Homo sapiens: one gene and its partners. The protein of the gene in region 5 purifies or fractionates together with the protein of the main gene of each other region. This does not show direct contact. Each region holds a gene or a part of one and is shown on either strand. Other genes may lie near its edges. The genes, in order: UBR3, CACNA1B, HERC5, MAP2K1, PDLIM5, MIB1 and TMOD3.

Region 1 (3,500 bases), on a different chromosome or scaffold from region 5:
AAGGGAGAAATTTATTTAAAGAGCAAATCTATTGAATAAATCTTTGTATGAAACTGAGCATTCCCTTTAGAAAATATAGTACTAATATGTTTTTAAAATGATGCTAAATAACTTCTCTTGATTTTTCTTTGTTTCTCTTTGTTAATGGTAGAATTCTGGTACAGCTCAAGTTTTCAGTTTAGTAGCAGAACGTAGAAAGAAATTTCAGGAAATCATCAATCGCAGTAGCAGTGAAGCAAATCAGGTGGTTCGTCCCAAAACTTCAAGTAAATGGTCTGCTCCTGGTTCAGCTCCACAGTTAACTACAGCCATTTTGGAAATTAAAGAAAGCATATTGTCTTTGCTAATTAAACTTCACCACAAACTCTCAGGAAAACAAAACTCCTACTATCCTCCTTGGCTTGATGACATAGAAATTTTAATCCAACCAGAAATTCCTAAATACAGTCATGGAGATGGTATAACTGCCGTGGAAAGAATTTTACTAAAAGCTGCATCGCAAAGTAGAATGAACAAACGCATCATTGAAGAGATATGTAGAAAAGTGACCCCTCCTGTACCACCTAAAAAAGTCACTGCAGCAGAGAAGAAAACATTGGACAAAGAAGAAAGGTAATTTTTATTTTTAATGTTTTAAACGTGTGTATAGTTGAAAATTTGATATTTTCTTCCTTTTGGTCATTTGAGGATAATCACCTGGATGTTTAACAGGAACAGTCATAGCTGATTAGTTTGTAACATAAATGGAATGGAGCATAGTCAGTGCTTGTACATGTGATGTATTGAGTTTATTGATGGACAGGTGAGACTTTCTGACCCCAATGTAAAATTACTACCTTAAACCTGTGTGTCTCTTTGGAAAAATTGCTACTGCTTTTATTGCTGTAGGGATCTAATAATTCTCTTACTGTTAAAGTTGAACTGTTCAGCTTTAAATGAGAATATTAAAAATATTTAAAATATTTCTCAAAATAAAAATCCAACTGCTTTAGTTTCTTTTGGTCTTTTCTAATCTTTATTAATATATGATTGCTGATTTTTAAAAAGTGATGTTTTAAAACACATTCTGACTAACTTATGCTTCTAGCTTTTGGATCTTTAGGTTGCTTATAATTTGTTGTTAAATTATATTTATAAACTTTTTTTTCATCTTTTGACTTTCTTGAAAAAAAAATGGGATTTTTTTAAAATCTCAAGATATATACTATGTTATGTGGGGTTTGTGGGTCAAGGACTATGAGCATGGTTTGGTTCTTTTTTTTAGTGGTACATTGTTTGCCAGAAGAGTTGTGTTACTGTGCATTGTCACAAATTGTTTCCCAAGAGCCTTGTCAACATTGCTGACCCTGCTGTCATAAACATGACAAGGTGAATCTTGAGAGATTGAAACTCTGCATAATTGTCAAACTCTTGGAAAGGGTTCAGTGTTTATTAAAGAAAAAAAAAAAGAGCATGCCTTCTAATGAGTGTACACAGGCTAAAAGACCCAGGACATTTAAAAAAAAGATTTCAGATCAAATTCAAGATAGTCATTGCTCACTTCTCTGAGGTTATAAATAATATTCATTGTTTTAATTTCTTTATTATTTAAGACAAATTTGTCTACCAAAGCAACAATTATAGGGGAAGGGTACACATTTCCCGTTAGGGAGGGTCCAAAGAGATCACATCAATATTATCTTAATTTAAGAACCTAGGACCTTTATCATCTCAATCTGTTTTATATAGGTAAAAATCATTGTCAACAGAGTTATCTGGACTACTGTTGTGAGCAGTATGACTAATACATTATTTAGCAGTTTGAAGTGTACTTTAGAGGTATTTTCTGGATAATTTCATCTTCTTAGTTACTTTTAAAATTAAATATAGGCAGTTATGGGTTAAATGATCAGTGGAAGCAAGCCTAAGATGGATCTTACTTGATTGATCCGTTTCTCATTCATTGGGTGTCAGTCAAGCAGTTTTCTAGACATATCTGTGTCTGGTGTTGGACTTCCTGACCTCGAGGAATTGATACTATAATGGAGAGACAGACTGGTAAACAGATAGTTTGTTAGTAGTGTTAACATAGTGTAACAGATACTATCTTAGGTACACAGGGTGTTAATGGGAGTAGTAGGACATAAGGCTAAGAAGGTAACCATGTATCGTTAACTCGCACAGGGTATAAATGGTTACAGGGAAACTGTGGAAGGATTTTAAGTGAGGAATAATATATAGGGTAATTACATGAGGGTAGATTAGAGTGGGGTAAGACTGGAAATTGGGAGAGCAAGCTACTTAGTCATCTAGTGGGGCAGGTGTGGTAAGGGTCTGAACTAAGACAGTGATGATAATAAAGAGAGGAGGAGATGTGTATGAGATATTTAGCAGGTACAAGTTGTTAGACTCAGTCATCAGGTTGATGTGAGAAATGAGGGAGATGTCTTGAATGGTGCCCTGATTTCTGACTTGAATAATGTTCCTTTTACCAAGATAATGGAGTGTAGGAGGGGTCCCAGGCTCATTAGTAAAAGTGATCTGTTCAGTTCTGGACGCTACTAAGTTTAAGAGGGACACCCAGGTGAAGGTGTCCAGTCAGATATAGGGTTTAAAACTTAAGGGAGAATTCTTAGAGCTACAGATTTGAGCAGCTAGGTAGTAGTAAATCCTTGTATATGGGAGAAGGTTTACAGTAAGAAAATGAGAAGACTGAATGTAGAACTTAAGGGAAAAACATTAAAGGGAATGACTGAGGAAGGGGTACCTACAAAGGTGACTGACGAAGGGATGGCTGAGCAGAGTAAGAGAAAAACTGGGGTGAGTGGCATTAGAGAAGTCACAAGAGGAAGTTCAGAAAGCAAGAAACTTATCAAAATTGTTAAGTGCTACAGGAGTTCAATAAGATTGGCCATCCTATTTGATTTGTTAGTTAGGAGGTCATCCGTTGGTACCTGTATAAGGAGCAATTTTAGTCACATATATAGTTACACTACATCTCTGATGTAATTAAAAGTTTGTTGGGAGGCCGAGGTGAGTGGATCACAAGGTCAGGAGATCAAGACCATCCTGGCCAACATGGTGAAACCTCGTCTCTACTAAAAACATAAAAATTAGCTGGGCGTGGTGGCGTGTGCCTGTAGTCCCAGCTACTAGGGAGGCTGAGGCAGGAGAATTGCTTGAACCTGGGAGACAGAGGTTGCAGTGAGCTGAGATCGCGCTGCTGCACTCCAGCCTGGCGACAGAATGAGACTCCATCTCAAAAAAAAAAGTTTGTTATAAAAAATTTATATTAATATATGCAAAAGCTTATGGTAGATTAAGAATTTAGGAGAATTCCTAAATTGGAGTTATAAAGAACTAACACAAAATTTGTTTCCGTGGGAGAAAGGACATTCAGTAACATATAATTCAGATGACCATTCATTAAGTTTGAATTAGTAATAGCCTAGAATGTAATAAATCTACTGACAAAATTAGAAGGTTGAAAATGAGGTAAGATTGTTATTTTTGTTAATTAG
Region 2 (3,500 bases), on a different chromosome or scaffold from region 5:
ATTCTAAGATTGCAAAGATATTTCATATCAAAAAATTCATTACTATAAATCCCCATATCTAAGGAGAAAAAAATATATGATCTCTATGGATGCTGAAAAGGTCTTCAAGAAAATTCAACATCTATTCCAGATAAAAACACTTACTGAAGTAGGAACTAATGGATACCACAACATAATTTTACACACACACAAACAGACACACACACACATCCCTCAGGCCCCAAACCAAAATTTTATTTAATGTAGGCGGAAACAAGGTAATGCCCAGTAATTCCATTGTTATCTGATAGTGAAATCAGACAAAAAAATAATAATGAGTGGTGTAAGACTTAGAAAGAGTTAGAAGTATATTTGCAGAAGTTTTGATAATATATCTCGGAAAAAAAGGGGGAATCAGTGAAACTAATAAACAATTTGAGGATTCAGAAAAGTAGCAGGATACATAATCAACATATAAAAACTAATAGCCTAGATTTCTGTTTCTAGTAGAAGTAATAATAGGGACCAGACAATCAGTTGTTTTTAGCAATCGAAAACACCAGACATTAAGAGAATGAAAAACCAAGCCACAAAATGGGAGAAAATGCTTGCAAAAACACATATCTGATGAAAGACTTGTATCCAAAATATACAAAGAACTCCTAAAACTCAACAACTAGAAAACAAACAGCCAGAATAAAAAGTGGGTAAAAGATTTGAATAGGAATCTCATCAAAGAAAATTATACACATGGCAAATAAGCACATTAAAAGATGCTCAACGTCATATGTCATTAGGAAATTGCAAAATAAACAAGATATCATTACACGCTTAATTAGAATAACTCAAATCCAAAACACTGACAACACTGAATATTGGCAAGGATGTGGAGCAACAGGAACTCTCATTCATTGCTGGTGGGAATGCAAAATGGTACAGTCCCTTTGGAAGATAGTTTGTCAGTTTCTTATAAAGATAAACAGTCTTACCATATAATCCAATAAGCATGCTATTAAGTATTTACCCAAATGAGTTGAAAACTTATGTCCACACAAAAACCTGAACATGAATGTTTAAAGCAGTTTTATTCATAATTGCCAAAAATTGGAAGCAACAAGATGTCCTTCAATAGGTGAATAAATAAACTGTGGTATGCCCAAAAGACAGACTATTAATCCAACGCTTAAAACAAATGAGCTGTCAAGCCACAAAAAGACACAAAGGAAACTTAAGTGCATATTGCTAATGGAAAGAAGCCAATCTGAAAAGGCTGCATACTGTATGATTCCAACCCTATGACAGTCTAGAAAAGGCAAAACTATAGGGACAGTGAAAAAATCAGTGGTTGCCAACAGGGGTGTGGGGAAGAGCATAGGGAGCCTGGGGAGGAGTCACATCTGGATTCCTGCAGATAAAAGCCAGGTAGGGAACCTAGGCTCATCCTCAAGCTGATCCACAGAGAATCAGGTGAGGGAGCTGGGCAGGCAGACTCACTTGTGCCCATGGGAAGTGAACAAGAAAATGAACCAAGGGCAACTTTCCTCCAAGGAAGCAAAGGAAAAGGGGAGGCTGAGCAGTTAGAGGCTGTGTCTTCCATGGTTATACCTGGAATTGTGCGCCAGTCCACAGGCCCCAGGTGAGAGCACCTGAGCAAGAGAGAATGTCATGCACATGTGTGTGTCTGGAGATCTGTCTGCAAACATGGGCACGCACACGTCTGTGTGTGCGGATGCATCTGCAAACACGGACATGCACACATCTGTGTGTGGAGATCCGTCTGCAAACATGGGCATGCATGTGGTGGCACCTGATTGAGTCCGTCTGGTCTGCTTAAGACCTAAATGCTTCTGCTGGCATTCATGTGAGTCCTGTTTCTATGGCCTCTCTTCTACCCCTTTTTTCTCTGTACTTAAGAAAGGAGGGCTCCTCCTTGATGCCCATGAAACGCCCATGCACCTTCCCCACCACGTAAGGGGCCTGTATTTGTAACCAGCAGATCTCTCCCTATTAGACAGGTTTCAAGACAGGAATGACATCTTGGTCCCCTGTGCCCTCAGGGACTGCACACAGGCAGGCATGGAAAGGCTGTTCCGAGCATGTGAGTGAGCAAGGGGAGGAAAGAAGGCAGCTCAAATAAAGGCCTGGGAGCACAGCCTCAGAGCAGGGATGGCACAGGCCCATGAACAAATGGGCAGACGCAGTGGAGAGCCTCCTCCTCTGCAGCCCCTCGCTCTCAGCCCCAGTCAAGGCCGTGGACAGAGTCCTCAGCCAGCAGCTTTTGTGCAACCATCAAGAGTTGTGCCTGTTTTGTGGTCTGTCTTCCTGACAAGACTGTCTCCCTCCTACTATGCTCTCAGCACTCTAACACAGCACCTGGCACTTAGTTGGCAACGTGCAAATATTTTGGGAAGGAAGGAGAATGGAGCTCAACCTCAGTTATCTCTGGGGCACTAGAAATCAACAGGACATCAAGGGACAGATGTTGACAGCAAAGGACTCTCTCTCCAGCCAGGAGAACAATTCACAGAGGTAGGCTGGGTCCCCAGTGGCTGCTGTGGAGCAGGAGGGAATGGGGGTTGCTGGACCTGCACAAGATGGGCCCTGCCCCACTGGCACAGGGAGATACTCACTGGGAACGACCGTGGCTTCCCCAAGAGGGCCCGTCAGCATCACTGGGATATGTACAATAGTGTTCGGGTCTGGGGGCTGACTGCCCATGCGAGTGACGTTCCGCTGATTGTCTGCATCCTCTGGCTGTTCCTCCACCTTCTGGAGACAGGTGCTGGGCAGTGTGTGCATGGGACCCACAGTCACAGTCCCACTGGTCTCCAGGTCACAGTGTGGCTCCCTGCAATCAAGAATGTACATCAGGCCTCGGCGCAGTGGCTCACACCTGTGATCCCGGCACCGGGAGGCAGAGGCAGGAGGATCACTTGAGCCCAGGAGTTCAAGACCAGCCTGGGGAATATGGCGAAACCCCATCTCTACAAAAATTAAAAAATTAGCTGGGCGTGGTGACACGTGCATGTAGTCCCAGCTATTCAGGCTGGGAAGGCTGAGGTGGGAGGATCGCTTCAGCCCGGGAAGTTGAGGCTGCAGTGAGCCATGATTGCGCCACTGCACTCCACCCTGGGCGACAGTGCGGTCCTGTCTCCAATAATAATAATAATAATGCACATCAGCAAAATCCTATCAACCAAAACCCTTAAGCCTCCATGCAGACCAACTAAATCCATAACCACCTGCTCTGCTACTCTGGCCTTCTGTACGTTTTTTAAATTACTCTATACACCTCCGTGTCTTTAGTCCGAAAGGCAGGGATGGGGCTGACCCACCCACACACAAAGACAGGGCGGCGGCTGGGTTGACCCTGGGCTGGGGCCTCCAGCGGCAAGTATTCTGGTTGGTTTGTGGCCAGTGGGTACCTGGCGACTGCTGGTCTTGGCCACTGGACCACTGTTACCCCAGGCCCTCACGGGGTTGGTGAGTCCTGCCCCAGGGAGCAAGCTGGGCTAGCTGGG
Region 3 (3,500 bases), 6.2 Mb from region 5:
AGTCCTTGGAGCTTGGGGATTTACAGTTCTTGTTCTTCTTGGAGAGACCCATTTAAGTGGAGAAGTGGGTTTGGAAGTTGGCGTATATCTCTGAAGTTTGGCAAGAGTGGAAGGAGCCCGTGTTTGTATTGGAGACAATGTGTTGGGATTTTTTTTTTCCTTTTAAGGTTAAGGGGGACCTTAACATGTTTGTGAATGGAAGTGAAGGATTCCAGGAAAAGGCAGGAATGGAGGGGTGACTGAAGGAGCAAAGATGGGTTATGATAGCATCCTCTTGGGAGGGATTGGTGTCAGCAGTAGGGGTGCAGCCTCCTCGGGGAGCAAACAGCCACTTCAGCAAACACCTTATGTGTGCTCTGGTTTTTTGAATATCCTGATTTTTATTATTTATTTATTTATTTTTGAGACAGAGTCTCACTCTGTTGCCCAGGCTGGAGAGCAGTGGTGCGACCTTGGCTCATGGCAACCTTCATCTCCCGGGTTCAAGTGAGTCTCCTGCCTCAGCCTCCTGAGTAGCTGGGATTACAGGTATGCATCACCACACCCAGCTAATTTTTGTATTTTTAGTAGAGACGGGGTTTCACCATGTTGGCCAGACTGGTCACGAACTCCTGACCTCACATGATCCGCCCACCTCGGCCTCCCAAAGTGCTGGCATTACAGGTGTGAGCCACCACGCCCGGCCAATTTTTATGATTTCTTTCTGTTTATTTTTATTATACTTGGATCTGGTGACTATAATAGTGATGCCAGTTGAGGTCAATTTAGGTAAAACTTTTACCTAAAGTGGTAAAAACTTTAGGCTCTGGGGTTTGACTGATAAAGGATTAAATTTAGGCTGTAGGCCGGGTGTGGTGGCTCATGGCTGTAATCTCAGCGCTTTGGGAGGCTGAGGTGGGTGGATCACTTGAGGTCAGGAGTTCAAGAGCAGCCTGGCCAACACAGTGAAACCCCGTCTCTACTTAAAATACAAAAAAATTAGCCAGGCGTGGTGGTGCATATCTGTAATCCCAGCTACTCTGGGGGCTGAGGCAGGAGAATCGCTTAAACCCAGGAGGCGGAGGTTGCAGTGAGCCGAGATCAGACCACTGCACTCCAGCCTAGACAACAGAGTGAGACTCCATCTCAAAAAACAAAACAAAACAAAAAAACTAGGCTGCACCACCTGACTATTGTATAAACTTGGAAAAGTTATTTAAATTCTCAAGGCCTCGTTATCTCATAGAATTAATGTAGAGATTAAATATGATAATATAAGTAGGATACTTACCTCAGTGCCTTCCAAATACTTGGGTCCACAATTAATGTTAGCTATTTACTATTATTAAATGAGACTTCATATATAGCAATATAGAGCCCTGGAAGTGATGTATTATTTGCTCTGTTTCCTCAGGTTTCATTTAGTGGAGAAATTGGGTATGACCTCGGAGGAGTCAAGAAAGAGTTCTTCTACTGTCTGTTTGCAGAGATGATCCAGCCGGAATATGGGATGTTCATGTATCCTGAAGGGGCTTCCTGCATGTGGTTTCCTGTCAAGGTAAGTTCCCTCTTCTTTGCTTAAGGTATTTTGCGACAGAAAAAGTACACCATATACCATAGAAAATTAGTTTGTCTAGACTATTTCATGTTAGAAGAGGAGTATTGATATAATTATGGAGATAATGTATAATTCTAATAAGGTGATTATTTTCTTTAAAATGGAGTTTCCTTTTCCTGGGTTCCCATGTCTGTTCACATCGAACTCAAGCAATATATTTTTTGATCATTTATATAATGCATGGATTAAAAAGGAACCCTCTCTTTTTTAGGTACTCATTCTTTGTGTCAGTTCTGTTTTCCTAATGAATTTGAAGACAAAGGCTGTGGAAAGAAATTGTGAAAACTAGTTTATAAGGATTACTGAACCTAATGTATTTTTATTGCTGGTATGCTTTTAGGAACCAAAACTGTGGCAGGGATTTATTTGGTTTTTTATTTGTTTGTTTGTTTTGTTTTGCTTTATTTTTGAGACAGAATCTCACTCTGTCACCCAGGCTGGAGTACAGTGCCATGATCTTAACTCACTGCAACCTCCGCCTCCCAAGCTCAAGCCATTCTCTTGCCTCAGCCTGGCGGGATTACAATAACTGGGATTACAGGCTCCTGCCAACACACCTGGGTAGTTTTTGTATTTTTTGTAGAGATGGGGTTTCACCAGTTTGGCCAGGCTGGTCTCAAACTCCTGACCTCAGGTTATCTGTCCACCTTGACCTCCCAAAGTTCTGGGATTACAAGCGTGAGAGTGGCAGGGATTTAAATTGACTTAATGACCAAATATTAGGTTGGTGCAAAAGTAATTGCAGGTTTTGCCTTTACTTTTAATGGCAAAACCTGCAATTACTTTTGCACCAACCTAATATAAACCCTAAACATTCTTATCTCAGGCTTTAAATTTTTCAATTTGAGATTTGATTTTATGAAAGAGAAACAAAGATTTATTTAATATAAATATTTCATTGTACTGGTAAAAACTCATAATACTTTAAGATTTTTTTTTCGCTTTTCAGCCTAAATTTGAGAAGAAAAGATACTTCTTTTTTGGGGTTCTATGTGGACTTTCCCTGTTCAATTGCAATGTTGCCAACCTTCCTTTCCCACTGGCACTGTTTAAGAAACTTTTGGACCAAATGCCATCATTGGAAGACTTGAAAGAACTCAGTCCTGATTTGGGAAAGTAAGTAAACAGAGTTCCTGAGAAAGGACCCTTTCTAACATATATTTAGGCAAATATTTAAGTACACACGCTTCATAATATTTCCATGTTCAACAGCAGCATTTTAGGTACTTTAGACCAGTTTTAACTTTGACAAGAATTGTTGGATGATAATTTCGTTTTCTAAAATTAGGAAGTGTTGATTATTCCCATAACTAGACTTCAATGTTTGCATTAATCTTTCAACTTTTTCTGTGTAGGAACAGTCATGCACAGAGCACAGGTTACACCTTGGTGCAAAATCTGCTAGTGATATTTATGTTAAATGTTGTTTCATGTCATCACCTTTAAAATGGAAACTTATTTCTAAGTTAAAAGACAAGCCACCACCTCACCAAAAAATGGCAACAGTAAAAGGGTTTTCATATCCCTGCTGTGTAAAGCATTCCTACACATCCGTAAGAAATATTCACAAAGTATCCAAGAAGGCAACCTGGCAAAGAAGCAATAGAAATGCTTCCTAAATAAAAATGTCTTCAATCTCACCAGTGCTCATAGAATGCATATTAACGTGAGAGGCTAATTTATACTTCAAGTTGACAGTGGTTTGAAGTGTTGATGCTATATAGTATTAGCAAGGGCTTGAAAACTTTCATTTTAATTTCAGGTATTATTCGTGGAAATATAAATTGGTACTCCTTTTCAGAGAACAGTGTGGCAGGACTTAGCAAAATCAAAACATATTTGCCTTTTCAACTCAACAATTCTACTTCTAGACATTTAACTTTCAGAAATACACAACCATGCA
Region 4 (3,500 bases), on a different chromosome or scaffold from region 5:
TTCAGTTCCCACTTACTAGTGAGAACATGCGGTATTTGGTTTTGTATACCTGCGTTAGTTTGCTGAGAATAATGACCTCCAGCTCCACCCATGTTCCCGCAAAGGACGTGATCTCGTTCCTTTTTATGTCTGCATAGTATTCCATGATATATAGAGGAGAAATCTGAAATGTGGCAAGGTTAAGTGACTTGTCCATGGTCACACAGCTGGTTGATGAACAATTTGTGATAAGAATCCAGGACTCTTGAATACTAGTGATTTGTCAACACGATTCCATCTCCAGTCCTCATCCATACACACCTGCCATTAGGAAAGTCTTTACCACCCCAGCCTATAGTCTTTGTCATTTCTCTCACTGGCCAGCTTCTGAAAGTACAGGTCAGAAGCCAGTTCATTAGCTGGTAGGGTGGGTGGTTAAACGGCAAGGCATAGGAGGTAGAGGAGGGAGAAAGGAAGCACAAAGCTCAGGCTTAGTTTTTCCTCCAGAAGGTGTAAGAATTACTTATTTCAAAGAGTCAGAAAAGTGAACAGAGTCAGCATTCCCTTTTCCTTTGCAAATTGATTGAATTTCTATGGCGAGTATTAGCTGCAAGGCAGTGTTAATCTGCTCCAGCAGATCCATCATCAGATTGATGTGCAGGGGAGACAGGATTGTCTCTGGTGCAAAGGCCTTTTTGTGTAGGGCACACCATCTTTATGTATGATTGAGGCCTGGTGTGTTAAATGCCTCACACTGGGATCTTACCCATGTTTGTCAGTTGCCTCCCTTGAAAGTATTGAGCTTTTTGAAGATAATATAGCATCATGGTTAAGGTAAGACATTCGTTCTCTCTGCCTGAATTTGAAACGTGGCTGTGCCACTTACCAGCTCTTTGACCTTTGACATCTTAGTTCACCTGTCTGTGCTTGAGTTTGCTCATCTGTTCTAATTAGGGGTTGTGGATTAAATGACTTAATAAATGTAAAGCACTGAGGAGAGTTACACAGTGTTGTGAGGAAAGCAGTTTTTCTTCCATGCAGCCCTCCTTCCATTCCCCCATCATGCACAGTGTGTGTGTGTGTGTGTGTGTGTGTGTGTGTGTGTGTGTGTTGACAGCTTTTCGAATCTGCATTTCTAGCTGGCCTGCTGAGCCTGTCAGGCAGCTGTAACCTCACTCAGGTTTTAGCTGTGGGGTCCATCTACATTTGACATGTGTTTCTAAATGTGGTCCTCAGTAAGCTCCTTTGTGGGGAGACCTTGGAGAAAGGAAACCAGAGAGTGTGCACTGTGCACCCCCAGCCACACATGTTCTGGGTTCCCACACCTTAGGGACTGGGGACACTGCAAGACATAGCCGAACCTTGGATGAAAATATTGAGTAGCTGCCTCAGTTTGCTTGGACTGCTATGATAACATATCATAGACTAAGTAGCTTAGACAACAATAGTTTATTTTCCCACTGTTCTGGAGGCTGAAAGTCTAAGAGCAGGGTGCCAGCATGGTTGGGTTTTGGCAAGAGCCCTCTTCCTGGCTTGCAGATAGCTGCCTTCCTACTGTGTGCTTGCATGGCCTTTCTTTGATGTGTGCAGCAGGTGGGGTGGGGGGAAAATCAGTGAGGAAAATCAGTAACCTCGGCCTTGCATCTTCTTTGGTCCCATGCATGATGTTATTTGTAAGGCAGTGTCAGATCTCCTCATACATGGAGAGGCATTAAGTCTTCATTTCCCTGTCTTCTAGAGGTTTGGGATAGAGGGTGTGAAGGAAGAGCAGATTATGCTTACTCTATCTTTTAAGCTCAGAACTGGGGTGTGTGTGTTGGCAGGAACACCAACATGATGATGTATAATGAAGGCCTATCTTGTCACCTGTGTCACTTCAGCCACCCCACACAATTGTCACTGACATGCTTCACCTCCCGGGACTTCAATTTGAAACCCAATGAAATCCAGTGAAACACAGTGGAAACTCTTACCACCTTCCTGTTAACCAACTCACAGGAGTGATGAACACTTTTCAGTTCCCTGGATGAAACACTCTTGAGCAATGCCCACAGCATGCTGAATGCACTGCAGGCAGGCTGCTCTCTGCCATACCCACTCGCTTCAGCACCCACTGGCTGAATTATGTGCTTACCAAGAGCCAGCTTGTTCCCAAACCCATTTGTTCAGCTGTAGCTGGTATTGTAGTTAAGTAATGTATTTAGGTATCAGATAAACTGATGAAATGTAGCTGCAAATGAAGTGATTTTTTTCCCCTATGAACACTAGTTAAAAGCTGTGGAAAGACTTATAAGTCCAAGTCACTAAAACACATTACTGTCAAACTAGATGAACATTAAGATTGGGGGAAATCATAAAACTCTAGAATTTTATATTGTGATTACTCTGCAAGTAATCACAATATAACTTTAACCAGCTTTAACAAATCAGGAATAGGAAATTGTCGACAATGTATTATGTTCTGGTCCATGTGCGAAGGATGATGTGGACCTCTTAACCAGTGGGTCCTCTTTGGACCCTTATTCAAAGAGTCTTGCCCTATGTTAAAGAATGGGCGAATGAATGCAGATTTATATACATTGAGTAAAAATAAGAATTTTAGATATGTAATTTTTATGATTTTTTGCTGTGACTTTTTTGATTAACCTGGTTCCTGGACCTGATTACATTGAAAATGAGGATTTCTACTGTTGTGATTCAGTTTAAAGTTGGTTTGATTTCATTTTAGTGAATTTAGGGTATTTTATTTTGCGTATGGTAAAAACAATAAAACCAACAGTAGTGGGGCTTTTTAAACTGGGGTTTTAAAGCAAATTAAGGTGGCTCATTCTGGATTTTAGTAGGTTCTTTTGTTCCTCTCATTGACTTGCAGCATACTGAGTGAGAAAGACCTAATTTTTTCACTTTATAAATGAGGAAATTGAAGCCCTGAGAGGTAAAGCATGTTGGTGATAGTCATCCCGGGTGGCTGGAGTGAAGTGGGCAGAGCCACAGTGGGAGGGGGCCTCCTCTCTAGCCTCCCACTTTGATTATCTGTCTGGCCCCAGACCTGGAGCTTTCTTTCCATGATAGGAGTACTTCTTTGGGTTGACTTCTCTGGTGACAGTATTGACTTGTGCTCCCCACTTTGGAACAGGACCAACTTGGAGGCCTTGCAGAAGAAGCTGGAGGAGCTAGAGCTTGATGAGCAGCAGCGAAAGCGCCTTGAGGCCTTTCTTACCCAGAAGCAGAAGGTGGGAGAACTGAAGGATGACGACTTTGAGAAGATCAGTGAGCTGGGGGCTGGCAATGGCGGTGTGGTGTTCAAGGTCTCCCACAAGCCTTCTGGCCTGGTCATGGCCAGAAAGGTGAGTTTGCCTTGATTAACAGGTAATTGGATTATTTCTCAGGGTACTTAGAAGCCTGGGGACCAGGGTAGAAGGAAGACTGATTTTACTCAATACCTTTTTGTGCTGTTTGAATTTTTTTTTTTTTTTAAGACGGAGTTTCATTCTTGTTGCCCAGGCTGGTGTGCAACCTCC
Region 5 (3,500 bases):
CATGTACTTAGTAAGGGCTCACAGGACATCGAATACTAGAAGAGATAGCTGAATACTTAATTCCACTCTGCAGTTATCTAGGCCTGTCATTCCTGTTCACAAATGGAAACCCAATCCTACCTGGAACAAGAAGAACTTCTTTAGTGTTAATCCTGTGTTAATGAATTTGTTAAATTAGTCTTTGCTGACACAGAGAAGAAAACACTTTGCTATATGTGAAAGATTAATTTTATTGTTTAATCTGTGCATAATTTCAAGGGCATTGATGGAGAAAGATGCTCTTTCAGGACAGCCAAGAAGTATCAAGTTAGGCCAGTAGTTGCCCTGAGCATGCTTGTTTAAGAAAGGAGATCTGAGAGGAGCAAGGGTCATTTTCAGCTTGTTTTTTAAAGGTGCAGTGGGAATTTCTTTACTGTCTAAAATTCCTTTTGCTATTTGAAAGGAACTAATGAAATATTTTAAAGTCATCCTTTTAATGGACTGTAGTTTTAATTTATGTATTTATAGTGAACTATATTCCAGCAAGTTTGTAAAAAGACTTTTACAGGTATGTGAAATATAAGATAATCTTATAAATTACAAAAGGGGAAAAAGAATGAAATTCATCGATAGGCTCGTTAAAAATGAAGCTAACGTCGAGACTGGACGATACTAAAATAATGACCTGCCCACTTGCCTCTGGTTAGACTGTAAATCTGGCTTTAGGCCTTCTAGTAGTCTACCAAAAATGAAAGGTAGTTTTGCAATTTACAATAAGATAAAAATAAGACTACTGCTGAGGAAAAGCATAATAGTTCTTGCTGCAGAAATCAGGGAGGAATTTTTCTGAATGAGACCATGTGAAAGTGACGCTGGATGAGATCTAACAACACTCCAGCAACAACTTGCAGGAAGAGCAAGGGTGAATTTCATAGAGCTGTGTCCTGTAACAACTACCAGTACAGGTTCATGTATCACAACAAGCACCGTTCATAAAAGGAATAATCCTGCGGGGTGCAGCAGGCCCAATATGCTGTGATTCACAGAACCCAGTTTTCTGATGATCTGACTTGAACTCAATACATATTTTAGAAAATCTGGCAAATGGAATGTATTTTCCTTGGTCAGTTATTCTTAAATGTCTTTTTTTCTTCTCAGATGAACTTTGTCAAATATTTGATAGCATTGATAGACATGTTCCAGGAGCAGAGCTTTTCATTTTGTTCCAGGTACATACCAACACTTATGCTTTAACAGAATGCAGTTTGAAGTTGGATTGACTTCTTTGAAAACTGAGAAGCCAAATAAGAATACTAGCCTCAAGAGTCCTCCAGCCTTATGGATGAGCTAAAGATGTGCCCTAGTAAAAAACTCACCCTAGTAAATGGCTTTGAATCTGTTTTAATGTGCAGCCAGAGAGTAGCATGAAACCCCAAAGCTCTACCATGCTCTGTGTTATGGTCACAGTAAATTGAGCCTGGAAGATTTTTCATGCGTGTATAACCAGTTGCCCACCTGGCGGAAAAACACAGGGCACTCATCAAACTTTGTCTGGCTTTGAGCAGTGTGATTCCTGGTTTATCTTTGCTGATAAACTACTTGCCAAACATACACTGAGAAAATTAGATGAAGGAACTCGTTGAATAGGATTGTTATTTTATAAGTCAGTTGAAAATGATGGACCACTTACCAAAAGTAATATATTCGATTACAGAATAGGTGATCTGTAGCCTTTCTTTTCTGGCAGGAATTAGTAAACAAAGGCATTCCTTATTAGTCATAACAAAATTATGGTACCCTAAAGTTTTAAAAATAATAATAATAAACTGCCTATCTCAAACTTAAGAGAATGATATGTACTAGCTTATACAAAATGGCATCATGTTATTAATAAGAAACAAGTTAACAAAAAGTAGGGCTAGAAAATACCCTCTTACACCCCACGTAAAAATTTTTAATCACTCATCAAGAGCCTTTCTCCTTTTGTGACTCTTGCAGAATTAGGTGCTGATTCTGAGTAAACATCAATATGGTGACAAAGAATTTACAGTGGGAGATAGTTATTGAATAGCAAGGTTTATGTTATTGTCAGAATTTTAAAAATGCTGTGACTTTGCGATACTCATTGCTATGACTTCTCCTGTTAATAATCTGCCTGGAAGTCTGGTGTCTGATGCTTACCAACAATTACCATGTGGTCGCTTAGGGATGATAAGTGATGTTAATGAGGTCAAAGGCAGAATATCAGTTGACTAGAGCGGCATACTAGAAATCAGGAAATTCAACTTCTGGCCTTGGCTGGGTCAGTGATTTTATGATATTTGTCATATCTTTTGAACATTCTGTACCTTGGCTTCTCCATCTGTTAAACTGAATTCATAATAACTGTCCTGGTCTGTCTCACAGGAATGTTGCATGGACAAATTAGATAAGTGTAAAAGTGCCTTGGAGGTAAAGCTGCTCTATGAATATAAATTAGTGTGATATAGCTACTGAAAAGTATGTTGCAGAGGCTAGAATGGTTAGTCTCTGCAGGCTTCATGACTAGATAAGGCTTCATAATGGATTCCTGCCAAGCAAACCAAGCCCATCTTATCAGTTCATGACCATAAAGTATTTAATGGGGAAAAAAATCTCTTACAAACATTTGTTACCTTGATACAAATGTGTGTTAAAAATCGGTCATGTTGGGGAGGGGGGAGAGGGAAGTTGGTGCACAGTGGGTATAAAATTTCAGTTATACAAGATGAATAAGTTCTAGAGATCTGCTGTACAACATTGTGCCCATAATTAACAATACTACATTGTACTCTTAAAAATCTGTTAAGAGAGTGGATCTCATTTTAAGGGTTCTTACCACAATAAAATTAAATTTTTGAAATAAATCAGTCATATTTGAGTGAAATGAAACCTTTCTGAGTAGTTTCAGACAATTGATAATACCTAGTTTACAGTTCCTGTAGTCATTTTGGAGGGTGAGGACTTGATGTGTTTAGTAAAGTTGAGAAATAAATACATGAAAGAATGTGTGGGGAAGAGAAATTGTGGGGAAGAGAAATTGTCTCAGGTAATAGTTATTACTATTTTTAGCACTATGACTTACCAAATTGAAGTTTTTGTTTGTTTCTTTTGTAGAAGTGTCAAAGTCTCATCTCTGCCTAAACCATATATTTTTTTCTGGTTGCCTCATGTTCTGTCACAGTCACAGTTAACATCCTCATTCTCAATCCTACCCATGATGCAGACAGATTGCCTCATTTCAGCTCAATAAAACATCACCAAATTCCCTTAGGCAGAAAAAGGGTGGGGAGTGCCCTTTCTTGAAGGAATCCCTTAAGTGCACGTCTCCCGTTTTCTTTTCACATCAATGCAGAGTCCCTCTGTGAATTTACAACACCCAACACCCATGAGTTCAGTCCTTAAGAAGGAAAATTGAGCAAGTATTTAATTGGTTGGACATTGCATAAAAGAGGTCCATATCCAGGCTAACTCTAGAAATTTTATTCTCAAACTTAGTTGGC
Region 6 (3,500 bases), on a different chromosome or scaffold from region 5:
AGCATAGTGCCTGACAAGTGTTCTCAGCTACTTCTCAGCACTGCTCCCCACCCTGCACCATGTATTGCATGATACATTGCCTTCTTTTTATGCAAGAGCAGCTGAGTACCTAGATTCAGGGAATTTCAGTTAGACTGAATGGAGCTATTTTCATCCATTTCCTATTACGTTTTGGTTTATATAGGTTTTTTTGTTTGTTTGTTTTGAGACAGAGTCCTTGCTCTGTCGCCCAGGCTGGAGAGCAGTTGATGCAGGATTTTTCTCAACCCCTTTGTCATACTTGCGACAGAGGTGCGCTGCTTACTTGGCCACTGTGCTCAACTGTTTGCGGGAGGGAGCACATGAACGAGCAATTGCAGGATCCATGCAGCGGCACCCAGGTGGGGGTGCCTGCGACTCCAAAGCCCCTGAGGGCATGTTAGAGTGCTCTCTTAGTTCTGCCGTCCACGGACAGCGGTGTGTTATCAGCTCAGTTGGCCCCTTGCCTCATAGTGTGGGGTAGCTGCCCTCCGCCAGTGAGGGCAAAGGGCCAGTGTAACAGCCTTATTTTGGGTACCCACACTCGGTGTGTCCCGAGCTCTTGTCCAGTGTTCAAGAAGAATGAGGTCACCTGGACACTTGAAGGATGGTGAAGGCAGAGAGTTTTATTAAGTGATGGAAATGGCTCTCAGCAGAGAGGGGAACTGGAGTGGGGGTGGGACGGGTAGGTAATCTTCCCCTGAAGTCCGGCCATCTCTTCCCTGAAGTTAAGCCATCTCTCCTCCGAAGTCCAGTCATCCCTTTGAAGTCAAGTTGCCTCTCTCCCCTCTACTACCTGGGTCTGGAGTCTTTAAAGGCACAACATGGGAGGAGTGGGCAGGGTGGGCTGTGGGTAGTTTTGGAAAAGGCAACAATCGATTGGTAAAAAGACATTATTTAGAAAGAACCAGTTGGGCTGGGCGTGGTGGCTCATGCCTGTAATCCCAGCACTTTGGGAGGCTGAGGTGGGCAGATCACGAGGTCAGAAGATCAAGACCATCCTGACCAACATGGTGAAACCCCATCTCTACTAAAAATACAAAAAAATTAGCTGGGTGTGGTGGTGCGCACCTGTAGTCCCAGCTACTCAGGAGGCTGAGGCAGTAGAATCACTTGAATCCAGGAGGCGGAGGTTGCAGTGAGCCGAGATTGCGCCACTGCACTCCAGCCTGGCGACAGAGTGAGACTCCATCTCAAAAAAAAAGAAAGAAAGAACCAATTGGGAGAGAGTGGGCAAGCAGGAATAGAAGTTCTCACTTTGGCCTGTGGGTTTCAGGCTTTTCAGCTCAAAGGTTGGGTTTCACTGGGGACCCACCCTTGTCTGCCTAGAATTTCTCTGCCTCCTGCCTCTATCACAGCGGCGCGATCTTGGCTTACTGCAATCTCTGCTGCCCGCGTTCAAGTGATTCTCGCGCCTCAGCCTCTTGAGTAGCTGGGATTACAGGTGTGAGCCAGGGTGTCTGGCTGTGTTTTATATATTAATAGTTTTTAATCTTATGTAGTACCTTTCATACTATCCTGATAGTACAACCAGTGTTTCTATTTTATTTTATAGGGATGACATTTTAACTATTTAAAAATGTTAAAAAATTGTTTTTAAAAACCACCAAAATATTATTTGACTAAAACAACTAAAGAAAATTAATGATATATAACAGTCTGTCACTTTCCAAATATAAAGTGTCTAATTTATTACTTTGTTATCTCACATTACAGACAATGTGCCCTGTGTGTCTAGATCGTCTGAAGAATATGATTTTCCTTTGTGGTCACGGAACCTGTCAACTCTGTGGAGACCGCATGAGTGAATGTCCTATCTGTCGCAAGGCTATTGAACGAAGGATTCTTTTGTATTAACTAAGACACATGGTGTATTTTGTTAGCTAATGTATCTAGTCATGAGATCTTAATAGGCTTTTGATCTAGTTGGAAGTTCTGATGAGTTAATTTCTAATATCATAGTTTCTTTACTAGAGTATAATTGGGCTGTAAATGTACCAGAACAAAAAACCCTACAAAATGGTGTTGGAAATTGTGTTTTTTGTTTTTGTTTTAAATTTGAAACATCAAATTCATGTAACTCATAGGATAATTTACCTTTGGCTTCTAAGAGGAAAGTCCTTTAAGGATATCCTTTTTTAAAAAATTGCATTTTTCTCTTATAATTTGTAAATTTGTTGGATCTCAAAAGACATAATTCTTTGTGATCAGTTATCCTTCATTTCATCGTGGTTTTACACAGTGAGTTGATAACAGGTTCTCTGAGAAGTCATGCATCAAATAAAAGAGGCAGGTCAAACAATTATGTCACATGGTAAATTATAAAATGACAGTACAAGTTCCAGATAGTTAAGGGAATACCGAAGGGATGATTCTTTTTTTAAGATAACAGGAAGTTACCCACATGTTTGTTTCTGAATTCTTAGAGTAAATGGAAGCATAGAATGAGGGAATAATGACTTTGCATTTCTCTTGTTTTCTAGATTCAAAAGGAACATTGTTTAACTTGAATCAGATTACCAGTTTCAAGGTGACTGATAGACAAGAAAAGGAAAAATAAGCAATAATAGTGGGCAACTGAAGAGAAAAAAAAAACGAGTATCTATTAACTGGCCACTAACAGTTGCCTTTCTTACATTAATTTATACACTATTTTGTTCAGCCAGTGTTTTTAAAAAAAATCTATGAAAAGTGTACTTCCGGTTTTCTGTGATTACTTATCTGGGCTTGATCTGACCAGTGAAATGACATTGCCCTATTTGGACCTCTGAGGTTCTATTTAGCTTTGCAGATGTACATAGTATCCCAGTGATCTGCAAAATTAATGCCTTTTCCAAGAAAAAATCTTTTCTTCTCTGTATCAGTTAATTCTGACAGTGTTAGTGATTCTGTCTTCATTATAGGCCTTATTTCCATTATCTCTTTCTTTATAGTATTTTTTGTTATAAAGAAAACAGTCTTTCTGTGTATACCTACGGATGAGGGTATTATTTAAACTGCCAACAATATCCAAGACATGGTCAATAACCTAATTATAAATACTTTAGAAAGAGTGACCAGGACATGTATAGAAATGTCTGCTTACCTGTAGACTTTAAAAACAAACAAAATTTTTGGAGCATTTAATCATTTTTTTTCTCCTTTTATCTCCTTTGTAATCTTATTGTCTCCTGAGTAAATATACACATAAATGTTTGGGGATTCATTGCTGCTAGATTATATCAGGTGTTTACATAGTGTCTACTATATGCTGTTGATAAGCTTTTTCCTAAAAATAGTTATCCTCTTTTGTAGTTTTTTTCCCTCCTTTAAATCTGGCTAGCTTTTCTTACTTCAGTTTTTATAGAACACCAACTAAATTTGAAAGTATGAAGTCTCTAGCCCTCTTACACTGTTTCTGGCTGTTTAATCCTTGCTGCCTTTGCAAGTCCTGGTGAAAGCAATGGGGAGCTTTGCTGGCTGGTTTTGTAGTCTCAACAATT
Region 7 (3,500 bases), on a different chromosome or scaffold from region 5:
CACACATTAAAATATGAAGGTTAAGTTAAAAATCTGCTTTTTGTCATATTATGTTCCTAGAAACCTTGTGAAATTAATGAACGGCAAAAATAGATCATTTCCATTTTCTCTCTTAGCCACTAGATGGAGCTAAGCATAGATTTATGTTCAGGATTAGGCTGCCTCCAACTCTGAATTTGGAAATGTGGGGAAATGTAAATTTAGAAATGTGGGGGAAAATAATAAGAGTATTGAGGAGAATGAGATTATAGGTGATTTTTAATCATTTTGTTTTCTGTGTGGGTGTGTGATCTGTAATTTATAGGAAAAGGTCCAGAGGATATTAAAATTATTGATAGAAATTTTTAGTTGTAAAACTCTTCATGTTTAAAACAATAAAAACTTTCTTTTTCTGTATTTATAGCAATTCTTGGGATGCACAATTTGATAACGAATACAAAGTTCTGTAATATAATGGGAAGTAGTAATGGTGTTGACCAAGAACATTTTTCAAGTGAGTACTTAAAATGCTTTGTGAATTCTAATCCTTTATTAAATATATTTTGTTTTCGCCTTGTGTCAGCTTAAGTGTTCACATACTAGATGTTATATATATGTACTTGAAACCTGACATTTCAGTTTGGTGGTATTAACCAAGAAAGCCATTGAAAATAGAGTATTAAATATTTTGTGTTTAATGGGTCAGCAAATGTAATAAGAACCACTCTACCTCACTAAATAATGCTAAACAGTATAAAAGCTAGTCCAACTTGGTTTTGTTGACATTTTATTATCACTACTACTAATTTTCAAGAAATACATAACAGTACTTACAAAGAAATTACATTATAAAATCAGATTCAGGAGATACCACAAAACTATTCAGCCCCTAAACCTTTCAGTCTGATGTGAAGTATTATATAGCCTAAAGCAAAGCTTTTCAGAAACTCATTTATAGGGGCCAGGTGTGGTGGATCATGACTGTAATTTCATTTTCTGAGGCTGAGGCAGGAGGATTGCTTGAGTCCAGGAGTTCAGGACCAGCATTGGAAACGTAGACCCCCATCTCTAAAAAATTTTAAAAATTAGCTGGGCATGGTGGCACATGTCTCTAGTCTCAGCTACTTGGGAGGCTGAGGGGAGGATGGCTTGAGCCCAGGAGCTTGAGGCTGCAGTGAGCTGTGATCACACTACTGCACTCGAGCCTGGGCAACAGTGCAAGACCCTATCTCAAAAAATAAATTCATGTATAGGGTGTTCTTAAATTAGCAAGGTGATACATGCCTTTGTAGCACATTTAAACAGTACATAAGTATTTATGGGAAGAGGTAAAAGTGTCTCTGTCTCCAGCCATCATGCCCTCTACTTCCCCAAACACCACCTACCCTGTTAACAATTTTGTATATACCCTTCCAGGCTTTGCACTGTTTATACTAATGTATACATATTATACATAGTCTCTTATTTTTTACAAAAAATCGATTATACTGTAAATATTTATTGCAACTTAATTTTTCAATAATAATTCTATTAGCTAATTTTTTTTTTTTTTTTGGAAACGGAGTCTTGCTCTGTCACCCAGGCTGGAGTGCAGTGGTACCATCTTGGCTTACTGCAACCTCCGCCTCTCAGGTTCAAGCGCTTCTCTTGCCTTAGCCACCTGAGTATCTAGGATTTGACAGGTGCACGCCACCTTGTCCAGCTAATTTTTTTTTTTTTTTTTTTAGTAGAGATGGGGTTTTGCGATGTTGGCCAGGCTGGTCTCGAACTCCTGACCTCAGGTGATCTGCCCACCTCAGCCTCCCAAAGTGCTGGGATTACAGGCATGAGCCACTGTGCCTGGCCAACTGTTTTTGAATGCTTACTGTGGGCCATGTTGTGTGCACAGCTCTTGGACGTGAAGTACTCTTATTAGCCCTGACAACAGTTCTATGAAATAGATATTATTATTTTTAATTTGCATGTGAGAAAGCTGACATTTTAAAATAATTGGGTAACCTCAATATTTTACACAAAGTCAGTGGTAAGGATTTTAACCCGTGTTATATAGTGTATCACTTAGCAGTCGACCGTGTTTTCTAGTTAATATGTATACATCTACATCATTCAGACATGTGTATAACATTCCTTTCTACGATGTTTTGTAATTTGACCATCCCCCTTCTCATTTTTAAGTTTTTATTGTAGAAATGTTCAAACACACATAGAAGAAGAGAGAATAATATATTCATTACCCAGTTTCCGCTGTTTTTAACATTTGCCAGCCTTGTTTTATTCATCTTCTGTCTCCCTTCCTAACCCTTCTACTTTTTTTTCTTGACGTATTTTAAAGCAAACCCTGTTCATTTGTATTACATACCTATAAATATTTCCATATGTGTGTCTCACAAATAAAGGCTTTTCTTTTAATGTAATCATGATGCCATCATCAAACTTAAAAATTAACGGTATTTTCTTCATATCATGTAATACCCAGTCTGTGTCCAGATTTCCTCTGTTCTCTCCAAAATGTCGTTTCATGATTGGCTCAAAAAAGGTTACACACTGCATTTGGTTGTTTGTCTTTTTAGTCTCCCTTAATTTCTTAACAGTTCTCCTCCCCAACCTCTTTCCTTTTTTTTTTTTTTTTCTGTGCCATTTATTTTTTAAGAAACTGGGTTTATTTTTCGTAGAATTTTCCACATTCTGGATTTGGCTGATTTCAACCTTATGGTATCATTTTATGTTTTTCTATCACCTATGTTTCTGTAAACTGTTAGTTCTAGTGGCTTGATGAGATGCAGGTGCAGGTCCCTTTTGGCAAGAATGCTTCATGGGTGGTGACTGAATCATATTAAGAAGCTTATGAAGTCTAATCCTTCCTCTTTGGGGGAATGAGATTGATCACAGGGTTCAAATGTAGGCAGCCTGACCCATCCTTTTTAAGTTTCCCATGAACCTTTTGCTTAATAATTCCTGCATCCCATTGACTGGATTCATTATTTCATTAAGGGGCAAGGCTCTTAAGATTTCTCTCCCCATTCCATCTTTCCCCACTCCACAGGATGTGTGGAATGGGGAAAGAAATCTTTTGGTTTTATAAAATTAGAACTATTCAATTTTCCATTCAATGAGGAAGTTCTTCCCTAGCTATCTTGAAGACTACCTTGCTGAACTTAAGTGAGAGGGATCCCACTCTCTGTTGTTTAGCAGAGCTCCATTAGGAAGCTTTTCCTTGTCTTGAACCAAGTTCTGCTTCTTGGCAATCTATACTTGTTCTAACGCAGCCTCTCAGAACAGCACTAAATTTGTCTCTTCTCAACTTCTACAGGATAAATCTGAAAACAGCTAGGATAACTTCTTTTAATAGGTACTTCTCCAGACTAAATATATTCAGATTTTTCACCTGACCTCGGGAAAGTAATTTTCAAACCTTCATCTAAGTTGATCTTCTCAAGATGCTGTGTGTGTGTGATATTTGAAAGTAACAAGATACTCTTAGATGGAATTTATTGGATAATCAGTGCACCCTGTCTCAAGAT

The links.
Region 1: the proteins of PDLIM5 (region 5) and UBR3 purify together in Homo sapiens (affinity purification with mass spectrometry; one large-scale study listed by BioGRID and IntAct). This does not show direct contact.
Region 2: the proteins of PDLIM5 (region 5) and CACNA1B purify together in Homo sapiens (affinity purification with western blotting, with the first as the bait; one study listed by BioGRID). This does not show direct contact.
Region 3: the proteins of PDLIM5 (region 5) and HERC5 purify together in Homo sapiens (affinity purification with mass spectrometry, with the first as the bait; one large-scale study listed by BioGRID). This does not show direct contact.
Region 4: the proteins of PDLIM5 (region 5) and MAP2K1 fractionate together in Homo sapiens (co-fractionation; one large-scale study listed by BioGRID). This does not show direct contact.
Region 6: the proteins of PDLIM5 (region 5) and MIB1 purify together in Homo sapiens (affinity purification with mass spectrometry, with the first as the bait; one large-scale study listed by BioGRID). This does not show direct contact.
Region 7: the proteins of PDLIM5 (region 5) and TMOD3 fractionate together in Homo sapiens (co-fractionation; one large-scale study listed by BioGRID). This does not show direct contact.

Annotation. Positions count from the first base shown.
Region 1 is NC_000002.12:169,949,454-169,952,953, forward strand, and holds part of UBR3 (E3 ubiquitin-protein ligase UBR3), read left to right. Parts: intron 1-151; coding exon 152-612; intron 613-3,500. UniProt on the Homo sapiens protein: E3 ubiquitin-protein ligase which is a component of the N-end rule pathway. Does not bind to proteins bearing specific N-terminal residues that are destabilizing according to the N-end rule, leading to their ubiquitination and subsequent degradation.
Region 2 is NC_000009.12:138,024,282-138,027,781, reverse strand, and holds part of CACNA1B (voltage-dependent N-type calcium channel subunit alpha-1B), read right to left. Parts: intron 2,828-3,500; coding exon 2,610-2,827; intron 1-2,609. UniProt on the Homo sapiens protein: Voltage-sensitive calcium channels (VSCC) mediate the entry of calcium ions into excitable cells and are also involved in a variety of calcium-dependent processes, including muscle contraction, hormone or neurotransmitter release, gene expression, cell motility, cell division and cell death.
Region 3 is NC_000004.12:88,491,619-88,495,118, forward strand, and holds part of HERC5 (E3 ISG15--protein ligase HERC5), read left to right. Parts: intron 1-1,393; coding exon 1,394-1,537; intron 1,538-2,546; coding exon 2,547-2,713; intron 2,714-3,500.
Region 4 is NC_000015.10:66,431,912-66,435,411, forward strand, and holds part of MAP2K1 (dual specificity mitogen-activated protein kinase kinase 1), read left to right. Parts: intron 1-3,115; coding exon 3,116-3,326; intron 3,327-3,500. UniProt on the Homo sapiens protein: Dual specificity protein kinase which acts as an essential component of the MAP kinase signal transduction pathway.
Region 5 is NC_000004.12:94,650,942-94,654,441, forward strand, and holds part of PDLIM5 (PDZ and LIM domain protein 5), read left to right. Parts: intron 1-3,500. UniProt on the Homo sapiens protein: May play an important role in the heart development by scaffolding PKC to the Z-disk region. May play a role in the regulation of cardiomyocyte expansion. Isoforms lacking the LIM domains may negatively modulate the scaffolding activity of isoform 1.
Region 6 is NC_000018.10:21,862,792-21,866,291, forward strand, and holds part of MIB1 (E3 ubiquitin-protein ligase MIB1), read left to right. Parts: intron 1-1,734; coding exon 1,735-1,875; 3' UTR 1,876-3,500. UniProt on the Homo sapiens protein: E3 ubiquitin-protein ligase that mediates ubiquitination of Delta receptors, which act as ligands of Notch proteins.
Region 7 is NC_000015.10:51,888,653-51,892,152, forward strand, and holds part of TMOD3 (tropomodulin-3), read left to right. Parts: intron 1-403; coding exon 404-493; intron 494-3,500. UniProt on the Homo sapiens protein: Blocks the elongation and depolymerization of the actin filaments at the pointed end. The Tmod/TM complex contributes to the formation of the short actin protofilament, which in turn defines the geometry of the membrane skeleton.